Homo sapiens: one gene and its partners. The protein of the gene in region 1 purifies or fractionates together with the protein of each later gene. This does not show direct contact. Each region holds a gene or a part of one and is shown on either strand. Other genes may lie near its edges. The genes, in order: PRKCI, SMC4 and MRPS35.

Evidence for each region.
Region 2: the proteins of PRKCI (region 1) and SMC4 fractionate together in Homo sapiens (co-fractionation; one large-scale study listed by BioGRID). This does not show direct contact.
Region 3: the proteins of PRKCI (region 1) and MRPS35 purify together in Homo sapiens (affinity purification with mass spectrometry; one large-scale study listed by BioGRID and IntAct). This does not show direct contact.

Annotation. Positions count from the first base shown.
Region 1 is NC_000003.12:170,228,822-170,232,552, forward strand, and holds part of PRKCI (protein kinase C iota type), read left to right. Parts: intron 1-3,731.
Region 2 is NC_000003.12:160,402,650-160,406,149, forward strand, and holds part of SMC4 (structural maintenance of chromosomes protein 4), read left to right. Parts: intron 1-26; coding exon 27-218; intron 219-1,678; coding exon 1,679-1,855; intron 1,856-1,938; exon of another isoform or gene 1,939-2,036; intron 2,037-2,095; exon of another isoform or gene 2,096-2,176; intron 2,177-3,500. UniProt on the Homo sapiens protein: Central component of the condensin complex, a complex required for conversion of interphase chromatin into mitotic-like condense chromosomes.
Region 3 is NC_000012.12:27,709,128-27,712,958, forward strand, and holds the start of MRPS35 (small ribosomal subunit protein mS35 isoform 1 precursor), read left to right. Parts: upstream 1-1,704; 5' UTR 1,705-1,716; coding exon 1,717-1,828; intron 1,829-3,831.

The DNA of each region.
Region 1 (3,731 bases):
AGTAAAACCCAGAAAATTACCTGTACCCGATAGGTATTTTTCAACCCTCACCCCCCTCCCACCTTTTGTAGTCTCCAATGTCTACTATTCCCTCTTTATGTCCATGTGTACCCTTTGTTTAGCTCTCACTTATAAGTGAGAATATGTGGTATCTGGCTTTTTGTTTCTGATTTTTTTGACTAGGGATAATGGCCTTCAGTTCCATCCATGCTGGTGTAGAAGACGTGATTTCATTATTTTTTATGGCTGTCTCACTCCCACTTTCTAGAGATAGCCATTGTTAACAGTTAGGGATATTCTATATCATATCGGTATATTTATAAGTATAGATATGTATGTGCATACACACACACAGACATACCCTTTTATTTTTCCAATAAATGAGTTCATATTTCCACACATGCATCTGCAACTTGATTTTAAAAATCGTGGTCATCTTTTCATTCCAGGGTAGACAGACCTCTTTATAGTTGGTAATACAGTGTTCTACAGTTGTTGTTGTTGTTTTAAGAGACAGAGTCTGATTCTGTTGCCTACGCTGGAGTGCAGTGGCATGATCTAGGCCCTCTGCAGCCTCAACCACTCTGGGTTCAAGCAGTCCTCCCACCTCAGCCTCCTGAGTAGCTAGGATTAGCTCACGCCACTAGGCTCAGCTAATTTTTTTTAATATGTTTTGTAGGGACGGGGCTGGTCTCAAGCTCCTGTGCTCAAGTGATTCTCCTGCCTCGGCCTCTCAAAGTGTAGAAATTACAGGCATGAGCCATTGCGCCCAGCCACCATAATATGTTTAATCTTTTTTCGGATTGATGAACATTTAAAGTTGTCTTCATCAACTCACTATTTCAAATAATGTTGAAGGAACCTCCTTATATTTAATACATATTCTTGTAAATATGGTCAAAGATATGCCTATCTTGAAATATGATATTGTTTCCCAAAAGAGCTTAATTTACATTCTTAACAACAGGACTAGTGAAGCTTCTGCCTTATATTCCCATTGCATGTTATCTGTCTTTTAAATTTTTGACTGTCAGATTGGCAAAAAATGGTAATTTATTTTTACAAGTATCTTTTATATATTAATGATCATTTGTATTTCTTCTGGATTGTTCCTATTTTACCCATTTTCTATTGTATTATTTTTCTTATTAATTTGTTGACAGGACATTGACATTTTGTTAAAGTTGCCAGCATTTCCCCAATCTGTTGCTAGTCTGGAGTTTTTCGTTTTTATGTCATCAAACCTGTCCTTTTTAAAAATTTCCTTGATAGTTTCTGGATTTACTGTCTTAGGTAAAAGTGTTTTTCATCTAAAAATATTCTATTTTTCTTCTATTATGCAACTTTTTTTTTTTTTTTTTTGAGACAGAGTCTTGCTTTGTTGCCCAGGGTAGAACCCAGTGGCGTGATCTCGTCTTACTGCAACCTTTGCCTCCTGGGTTCTAACAATCCTCCTGCCTCAGCCTCCTAAGTAGCTGGGATTATAGGCGCACGCCACAACACCCGGCTAATTTTTGTTTGTTTTTTGAGACAAGGTCTTGCTCAGTCGCCCAGGCTGGAGTGCAGTGGCACGATCCTGGCTCACTGCAGCCTCTGCCTCCTGGGTTGAAGTGATTCTCCTGCCTCAGCCTCCCAAGTAGCTGGGATTACAGGCATGCGCCACCATGTCCGGCTAATTTTTTATTTTTAGTAGAGACAGGGTTTTGCCATGTTGGCCAGGCTGGTCCCAAACTCGTGACCTCAAGTGATTCACCCGCTGTGGCCTCCCGAAGTGCTGGGATTTTAGGCGTGAGCCACTGCGCCTGGCTTATTATGAAACTTTTAAAGTGATTATCTTTTCAGTGAATCTGGTATTTTGGGGTTTAGTCATTTATAGGGTACTGACACAACTTTTTTTTTCTCCAAAATTTATTCTAATACCATTATTGGGCAGATTGTCCTTTCACCACTGATTTGAAATGGTAACTCTGTTATGTACTAAATTTCCCACAATGTGCGTAGGTACTTTCTATTGTTTCATTGATTTTAGGGGAGAGATCTATTTTTGCACATACCACTATTGGTTTAATTATTGTAATATTATAGTTAACTTTGATATATGTTATGGAATGGCTTGATTCATTATTTAATTTTTTTTTTTTGTTTTTTTTTTTTTTGAGATGGAGCCTTGCACTGTCACCCAGGCTGGAGCGCAGTGGCGTGATCTTGGCTCACTGCAACCTCCGCCTCCCAGGTTCAAGCGATTCTCCAGTCTCAGTCTCTCAAGTAGCTGGGATTACAGGCAAGGCGCTACCATGCCTGGCTAATTTTTGTATTTTTAGTGAAAATGGGGTTTCACCATGTTGGCCAGGCTGGTCTGGAACTCCTTACCTCAGGTGATCCATCTGCCTCGGCCTCCCGGAGTGTTGAGATTACAGGCTTGAGCCACCGTGCCCGGCCTATTCCTATATATTTTATAATCATGTGCTTTTGTGAATGGGGTCTTCTTGTAGACCTATTACATACTGTTTTCTTTTTGTATGTTTAAATTAAACTTTCCACCTTACTAATAATTTAACTGTCTTAGAATTTTTAAGCTAGATAATGTCATCTGCAAGTAGCAATTTTGCCTCTTCTTTTCTATATCTTATTTATTTATTTATTATTTATTTTATGTTTTTTGAGACAGAGTCTCACTCTGTCGCCCAGGCTGGAGTGTAGTGGCGTGATCTCGGCTCACTGCAACCTCCGCGTCCCAAGTTCAAGTGATTCTCCTGCCTCAGCCTCCTGAGTAGCTAGGATTACAGGCGTGCACCACCACACCTGGCTAATTTTTGTAGTTTTAGTAGAGATGGGGATTCGCCATGTTGGCCAGACTGGTCTCGAACGCCTGACCTCAGGTAATCCACCCACCTTGGCCTCCCAAAGTGCTAGGATTACAGGTGTGAGCCACTGCGCCCAGCCTTATTTATTTTTAGCCATAGGCTAGAATTTTCTAGACAGTATTGAATTATAGTAATAATCTCTTATCTTAGTGAAATATAATAGAAAAATTTCTGTCAATTAAAGAAAAAAGCTTTTAAAGAATTAAAGTTAGTGTTATTCAGAAATGTTACTGAGGCCGAGTGTGGTGGCTCACGCCTGTAATTGTGCCACTGCACTTCAACCTGGGTGACAGAGCGAGACTCTGTCTCAAAAAAAACTCAACTGAAAAAAGTGGAACAAAAGAAAAAGAACCATGATAAGTATTTTGCACTTTTTTTTTTTTTGAGGCACATTTCTACTCTGTCACCCAGGCTGAGTACAGTGGTGTAATCACAGCTCACTGCAGCCTTAACTGCCCAGGCTCACGCAGTCCTCCTACCTCAGCCTCCCAAGTAGTTGGGACTGTAGGCACACACCACTATGTCTGGCTAATTTTTAATTTTTTTGTAGAGACAAGGTCTCCCTGTGTTGCCCAGGCAGGCCTCGAACTCCTGTACCGAAGCGATCCTCCCACATTGGCCTTTCAAAGTGCTGGGATTATGGCATGAGCCACCTTGCCTGGCTGCACTCATTTATTTTCATTTATTTTTCATTTTTTGAGTCAGTGTCTTCCTCCATCACCCAGGCTAGAGTGCAATGACATAGTCACAGCTCACTGCAGCCTCAACTTCCTGGGCTCAAGCTGCACTTATTTAGTCTTCATGATAATACTCAGAGGCAGATATGATTATCTCCATTTTTCAGATAACATTGAGACTTACTAACCC
Region 2 (3,500 bases), 9.8 Mb from region 1:
GTTTTGTTTTTGTTTTTTTAATGCAGCGCTTTTCCTGTATTATCGGGCCAAATGGCAGTGGCAAATCCAATGTTATTGATTCTATGCTTTTTGTGTTTGGCTATCGAGCACAAAAAATAAGATCTAAAAAACTCTCAGTATTAATACATAATTCTGATGAACACAAGGACATTCAGAGTTGTACAGTAGAAGTTCATTTTCAAAAGATAATTGATAAGGTAAGGGATTTTTACTGTTATTGGCAAGTTCAAGTAAGGAAAATGGACTTAAATGCATTACATATTTTATTTTTGGCTTTAAGAAATTTGTATGTAATTACAGCGGAAAGCATTGGTTTCATTATCTCTGACCGTATTTTATTTTGGGGGAGTGGTGGTGCCTGTTAAAATACTTATTTTTTAGCTAAAGAAATGAAGTATAAATAGTTCATAGTAATCCTTTTTGGAATAAAAGCATTGAGCAGTTTTAGGGTCCTGAGTACTAAATAGGCATTATTTTACTATAAATATTCAGTTCATTTTTAAAGTTATATTTTGATTGCTTTAGAATAAATTAGCTAAACTTGAAAATGTAGCAGTTAGCCGGTTTTACCATCTTCATTATTTCAGTGCATTTTAACTCTAATGTTAGTGGCCCCTGAGTATCTGTGATATGAAAGAGCTTTGCTTCAGTTTGACTACTGCTGTAATTAAGTCCTTTAGAAATGGGGGAAGGACAAGCTAATGTTTGTTTTCTAGAAATGGAGACAACTAGAGGTAAAATGTCTAGATTATTTACCTGTTGAGACTTTTTCTCTTCTGTTTAATAATGTAGGAAATTGATTGTTCAAAAATGACTCGATGGAACCTAAAAATATAGAAAACTAATTACATAATGAAATTGGGAGGTGATTTGTCTTTTGAATTCGTTTTCCTTTTTTTAATACAAAGTGCTTTAATTACACAGAATCATCTATTTTAATTTGGTTTCTTTTGTGCTTTCTATTGTACAAGTTGGGTTGGAAAATAGATTGCCAGGAAATCAGATTTTATTCCATTGCATATTAATTACATTTGATTTATCTAAATTTTAGAAGCCTTTGCTTCAGTATGACAGAACTTTTAAGGTTAAGGGAAAGTGTTAAAGTAGATTTGCAATTGATTTTTTTAAAAATCTGTTTAAAAGAAAATCAAGGGAATTTAGTTGTTATTTCTTTGTGATTCTTTTTACTTTAAATTAACGGCACACTCTTTACCCTCCCACACAAAAAAACTAAAGTGTATCACCCGGTTACTACCTTCCTTCCTTTTTCTTTGAATCATCATTTTAAAAAGCTGCAGCTTTTTAATCTGTCAACATGTTAATAATTTGTGTGGGTTTTGGATATGGTGGGAATCTTGTCTACGTCTTCTCAATCATAAACGTTTTTAGGCTTGTTTGGAGGTGGGTTTTTTCGTTGGCTGGTTGGTTTGGCTTCTTGATTTTTGTGATCTTTGAGAAAGGGACCAAAACAGCATGGAAAAGTATCAATTCTTTGCTAAGTTGGGTTATTAATGAGAACTACTGGCAGTTTGTGTGCATGTTCAATTGAAGTTTTTAATCCATAGAATTAGTTTCAGTATGAAATGAGTGAATTTTGAAGTAGGCCTATGACTTAATACCAACAATTGTTTTCTGGTTTTGTTTTTCCTCAAAACAGGAAGGGGATGATTATGAAGTCATTCCTAACAGTAATTTCTATGTATCCAGAACGGCCTGCAGAGATAATACTTCTGTCTATCACATAAGTGGAAAGAAAAAGACATTTAAGGATGTTGGAAATCTTCTTCGAAGCCATGGAATTGACTTGGACCATAATAGATTTTTAATTTTACAGGTAAGTTTATTAAAGACTTCAAAGATTCTCTTATTCTTGTTACTTTTTTTTCTATAAAGCTAGGTTGGATGAATCCTACATTTTTGAGGCCTTAAAGTACTGTAGCAGCACATCATGGTTTACATGCTACAGTCAAGATGCGAATCATTATTTGCTGCTCTAGAAATTTAAGGAAATTCATTCAAAACTATGTTTTCATCATCAGATGTTCGTTTTATGTTTGGATGAACTGACATACTTGTTCCACTCTAGCAGCACGTAAATATTGGCGTAGTGAAATATATATTAAACACCAATATTACTGTGCTGCTTTAGTGTGACAGGGATACAGCAACTATTTTATCAATTGTTTGTATTTCCCTTTAAGGTAACATTTTAAATGAAATGTATTATATTTTAATCTATCCTTTTCCTTTGTTTTTGTTCTTATTATCTCTTCTGATATATAACCAAAAAATGAAAAAATCTGTACACTTGGTGTTTGATTTACCTAAGCACCTAGTTAATTTAATCTTTGTAACACTTTGGATGGTTAACTTAACCTTTACTCAAGTTGGTTTTTGTTTTGTTGAAAATGACTTACTTGGTGGAACCACTACTACTGAAAGAACGAAACTTTGATATTACATTGTTAAGTATCAGAGCTGTTACAGAGCAAGTCCTTTTAAAGAGATGTAAAAATTAAGTACCTGTGCCAAACTGATTTTTATTAGAAACCCTGTTTTCTTTAAGTAAAAGTATATTCTACCAGCATGGCTTGGTAAGAAAAATCCCCTATCTTTTTTTCCCTGTCCTCAAAATTCAGAATTTTTCGGAAAAAAAAAAAATTAGGGTAAAACCATGGCTTTGTCAAGTTCCTGTTTGATTCGAGGGTATCTTCTTTTCCTGTGTTCTATCCAGAATCACCGAAGCATAATAAAAGCAAAACTATTTTGTGATGCAGAAATGACTGAAATAAGTAGGGAATTTTGTTAGGGTGACTGGATGTTCCTAATAACAAACTTATAAAATGTTAGCCTCTGTTTCCATTTTAGTCTTTATTCTTCAATTGTTTCTAAAAATTATTACTTTTAGACATTCATAGTATACAAGGTAAATCAGTATCATTCTAGGATAACCTTTTTTAATATCTTTTGTTACCAGGCACAGTATATTTGCAATACTTCAACCTAAACTTATTTAAAAATTAATGTTGAGGAAATTAATTGCAGATATATTTCTAAACAAGATTGGAATTTATAGAATGTGGCATTAAAGGATTTTGTGTGTTTTTAAAATCAAATTGAACTGTTTTATTGACTTACATATTCTGGGACTTGGTTTGGTTAATAATGGATAAAAAGTTATGTCCCTATATAATACTAAATTTGATGATGATACCAATTTGCAGGAAATTGTACTTATGTTTATCTTTTGCTTAATCTTTTACCGTCATCCTGGGATAATCAAAGTTTTACATTTATCCAAAGATTCATCAAAATACACTGCATTTTAACCCTTCTAAGGATAATTTTTTTCTCTGTACAGCATCTCTGTACGTAATTCAGTAATAAAGGAAGCTAATGTAATATTGTCCCAACGAAGTAAATAATTTATAAATTGTCAAATTTATATTACATTTGTGCTTCTGAAGTATATGGGATGC
Region 3 (3,831 bases), on another chromosome or scaffold:
TTGTCCATCTCATGCTATTTGTCCCCCTCCCATACCTTACTGATTGATGTCCATGGCGCACTGAATGTTCACAGCTAGAATATTCTTGGACACCTGCATACCTCTGCTCTACTGGTTGTATGCTTACCAAGAATCGGTTTTGTTTATTTTTAGTTGTTTTTACTGTTATAATTTTGTCACTTTGAGACAAAATAGGGAAATAGGCCAGACCCATGCCTGTAATCCCGACATTTTGGGAGGCCAAGGCAGGAGGATCACATGAAGCCAAGAGTTTGGGACCAGCCTGGACAACATAGCAAGACCCCCAACTCTACAAAAAACTTAAAAATAGAAAAAATAGGCCAGGTGCAGTAGCTCACGCCTGTAGTCCTATCACTTTTTTGGGAGGCCAAGGCAGGAGGATCGCTTGAACCCAAGAGTTTGAGACCAGCCCTGGCAACACTGTGAGACCTCATCTCTGGAAAAACAATTTTTTTTTTAATTAGCTGGGTGTGGTGGTGCGTGCCTGTAGCCTCAGCTACTTGAAAGGCTGAGGTAGGAGGATCACTTGAGCCTGGGAGGTCAAGGCTGCAGTGGGCCATGGTCCTGCTACCACATTCCAGCCTAGCAACAGAGCAAGACTCTGTCTCAAAAATAATAATAATTAATTAATTAATTAAAATAATTTTTAAAATAAAGAGAAAATAGAGAATTTATTTTATTTTATTTTATTTTTGAGGCGGAGTTTTGCTTTTATTGCCCAGGCTGGAGTGCAATGGCGCGATCTCGGCTCATCGCAACCTCTGCCTCCCGGGTTCATGCGATTCTTCTCTCGAGTAGCTGGGATTACAGGCATGTGCCACCACACCCGGCTAATTTTGTATTTTTAGTAGAGACCAGGTTTCTCCATGTTGGTCAGGCTGGTCCCAAACTCCTGACCTCAGGTGATCCACCCGCCTCGGGATCCCAAAGTGCTGGGATTACAGGCGCGAGCCACCGCGTCCGGCCGAGAATTGTTTTATTAAGGCTTGTATGTTAATTCATCCTACCGTAGAAAATTTAAGAGTGTTCATTAAAAGTTTATTTTCTAGGTCCTGATGAGTTCTGACTTTCTGTAATTCTAAGCTGATCTAACAACAAGCTAACCATATATAGCTAAAAGTTATAGGCTACGTACACGCGGTGTTCACTGTATGCCAACGCTGTACACAAATATTTGTCTATGCTAACTTGTCTGAGATCATACATCCCAGAAGTGGTGAAGTCAAGTTTGAAACCCAAGCACTCTGGCTCGGGATACTGCTTCTCTCCCCTTAGCGCATATTACTGGCATTAGTTGAAGACTTCTTTAATCCAAGTAAATGTAGAAAAGCAACAATTATAAATAACAAGAGTCCCTCGGGTAGACCGCCTGACTCTCGGATCAACTGAGGTTCCACCCAGAGCACGCCCGCCTTCAGTGAGCCGCAACCCCTATCCCTACGGTCTTTATCTGCAATTCTCTACGAACTGATTCACTCGATTTTTAAGGATTTTTTTTGTTTTCTTTTCATTACTTCTTTCAGTTTGGGGGAATCTTCCTGCACATTTGACTCGGCTCTGAGTGCGCAGACCAACGTGTTTCCTCTTTCTCCAGCCTAGGGCGGTGCCAGCCCAGGGAGCCTGCGCTTAGCGGCCCCAGGCCCGCCCCTGACACTGAACGCCGCTTGTCCCCTCCGGCTTGCCGTCCTCGCAGCCATGGCGGCCGCCGCGCTCCCAGCATGGCTGTCTCTGCAGTCGAGGGCAAGGACTCTGCGTGCATTCTCCACTGCCGTCTACTCGGCCACTCCGGTCCCGACACCTAGCCTGCGTGAGTGTCTGTCTCGTCTTCTCTGGGCTTTGGGGGAGGTGCAAGAGCGGAATACCGGCCTCATGAAGGGTGCCGCGGTGGCTGAGCCAGCGCCGCCCGGGGGAGGCCAGTGCGTCCGCTGCCAGGCCCGTCTGGTAGGAAAACCATGGACGTGGGTCTGTGCTCTGCACCCGCGTTGCCCGGCTTCTAGCCGCCTGTTTCTGCCCTGGGTGCTCTGGGAGTTTGCTCAGAAAGCTTACATCCCCCTTCCCCGTGACCTGCTCCTGTGTTGCCCCCGTCCACAGCCCCTGGCACAGGTTACTGGTGCTGTGTTGTTTATCGGGCATCGGCGCTGTTGAACCATGGATTTCCCCAAACATTAAGAGAGTCATACGGCTGTGCTAGGACAAATTGCTGCTCTGAATTCCAGGCCACCAAATGGGCGGCCTTCATTCAACAGGCGTTGATGACCTCCATTTAACAGAGATTGTAGGGATGCTTGATAGCGTGCTTACCCCGGAGGACTCTAGTGGAAAATACAGATTTATTAGCGGAGAAGTGCTATGTAGGGTGAGAGGCGCTGTGATAGAAGTGTGGCTAGAATGACGGGAGCGTTGAGGAGGAGCTGGCGTGAGTCTAATCAATAGGCGGATCCTACCTGTGCTACTTCCTGTTATATCTCTAATTTACTCTCCTCATACTACCAACTATCTAGTTCAGGTGACCATCTCATTTCTACAAGTTTTTTTTCCGTTTCCTGTTTCCCCTCTTGCTCTCCTACATTGAATTCTCAAAACAGCCAAATGAGGTTTTCAAAATTTAGATCTTGTCTTGCTGCTCTCATGTTCAAGATCTACAAATGGTTTCCCATTGTTTTCAGATAAACTATAAATACATTAATCCTTCATACTGGCTCTTCATAGGTCTAATAATTGTCTATTTTTAAATTTTCATTCTTAAATTCTTGGAATACTTAACTCCTATTGTATACCATGCAGTGTTCTAGACACTCACCGGAGATACGGCAAGGTGGGGAAGTCAATAGTATAAACAACCAAACAACTAAATAAGATGTCAGATAGGGTTTAATGCTTTGAAGAAAAATAAAGTAGAGTATTGAGAATGATGGATTTGGGGGGAGTAGTGGCCACAGGATGGTCAGGAAAGATCTTTCTGAGGAAGTGACATTTGAACAGGGCCCCAAGCCATGCAGAGATATGGGGAAAGAGCCTTTGGGGTATGGGGAACTATAAGTGCAAAGGCCAAAAGTTGAGAACAATCTGAGGGGTGTGATCAAGGAACGGGAAGAAGGACAATGTGGCAGGAGCTAAGTGTGAGTAGAGGAGAGAGTGGTAGTATAAGACGTCAGAGAGTTAGTTAAGTAATAATCTGATCTCTCAAGAGTTTGTAGACATTTCATTTGGATTTTTGGCTTGGGTTTTATATTGAAAGGCTTGGAACAGGGAACTGATATAATGTGATTTACGTTTTTAAAAGATCACTGGCTGCTTTACTGGGGTAAGAGTGGAAGCCAAAGATCTGTTTGGAGGCTGTTGCAGTAATCCAAATGAGGTGATGGTGACTTGGATTAAAGTAATAGTGGAGAAGGAGGTGTGGTTGTATTTGCGATATATTTTGAAGGTAAAGTTCATAGGATTTACTGATGGATTTGATGTGGGGCTTGAGGACAAGTCTCAAAAAAATCCTGTTACATTTTTGTTCTGAGCAATTGGATGAATGATGATTCCATGTACACGAATTGGGAAGACTGGAAGAAGAAAATCAAAAGCCCTGCCAAGGGGCTGAGTGTGGGGGCTCATTCCTGTAATCCCAGCACTGTGGGAGGTCGAGGCCTGCGGATCCCTTGAGCCCAGGAGTTTGAGACCAGCCTGGGCAACATGGCGGAACCTCGTCTCTATTGAAAATACAAGAAATTAGCCAGACGTGGTGGCCCATGCCTGTAGTTCCAGCTACTCCAGAGGCTGAAGTGGGAGAATCACCTGAGCCTGGGAAGTCGATTACAG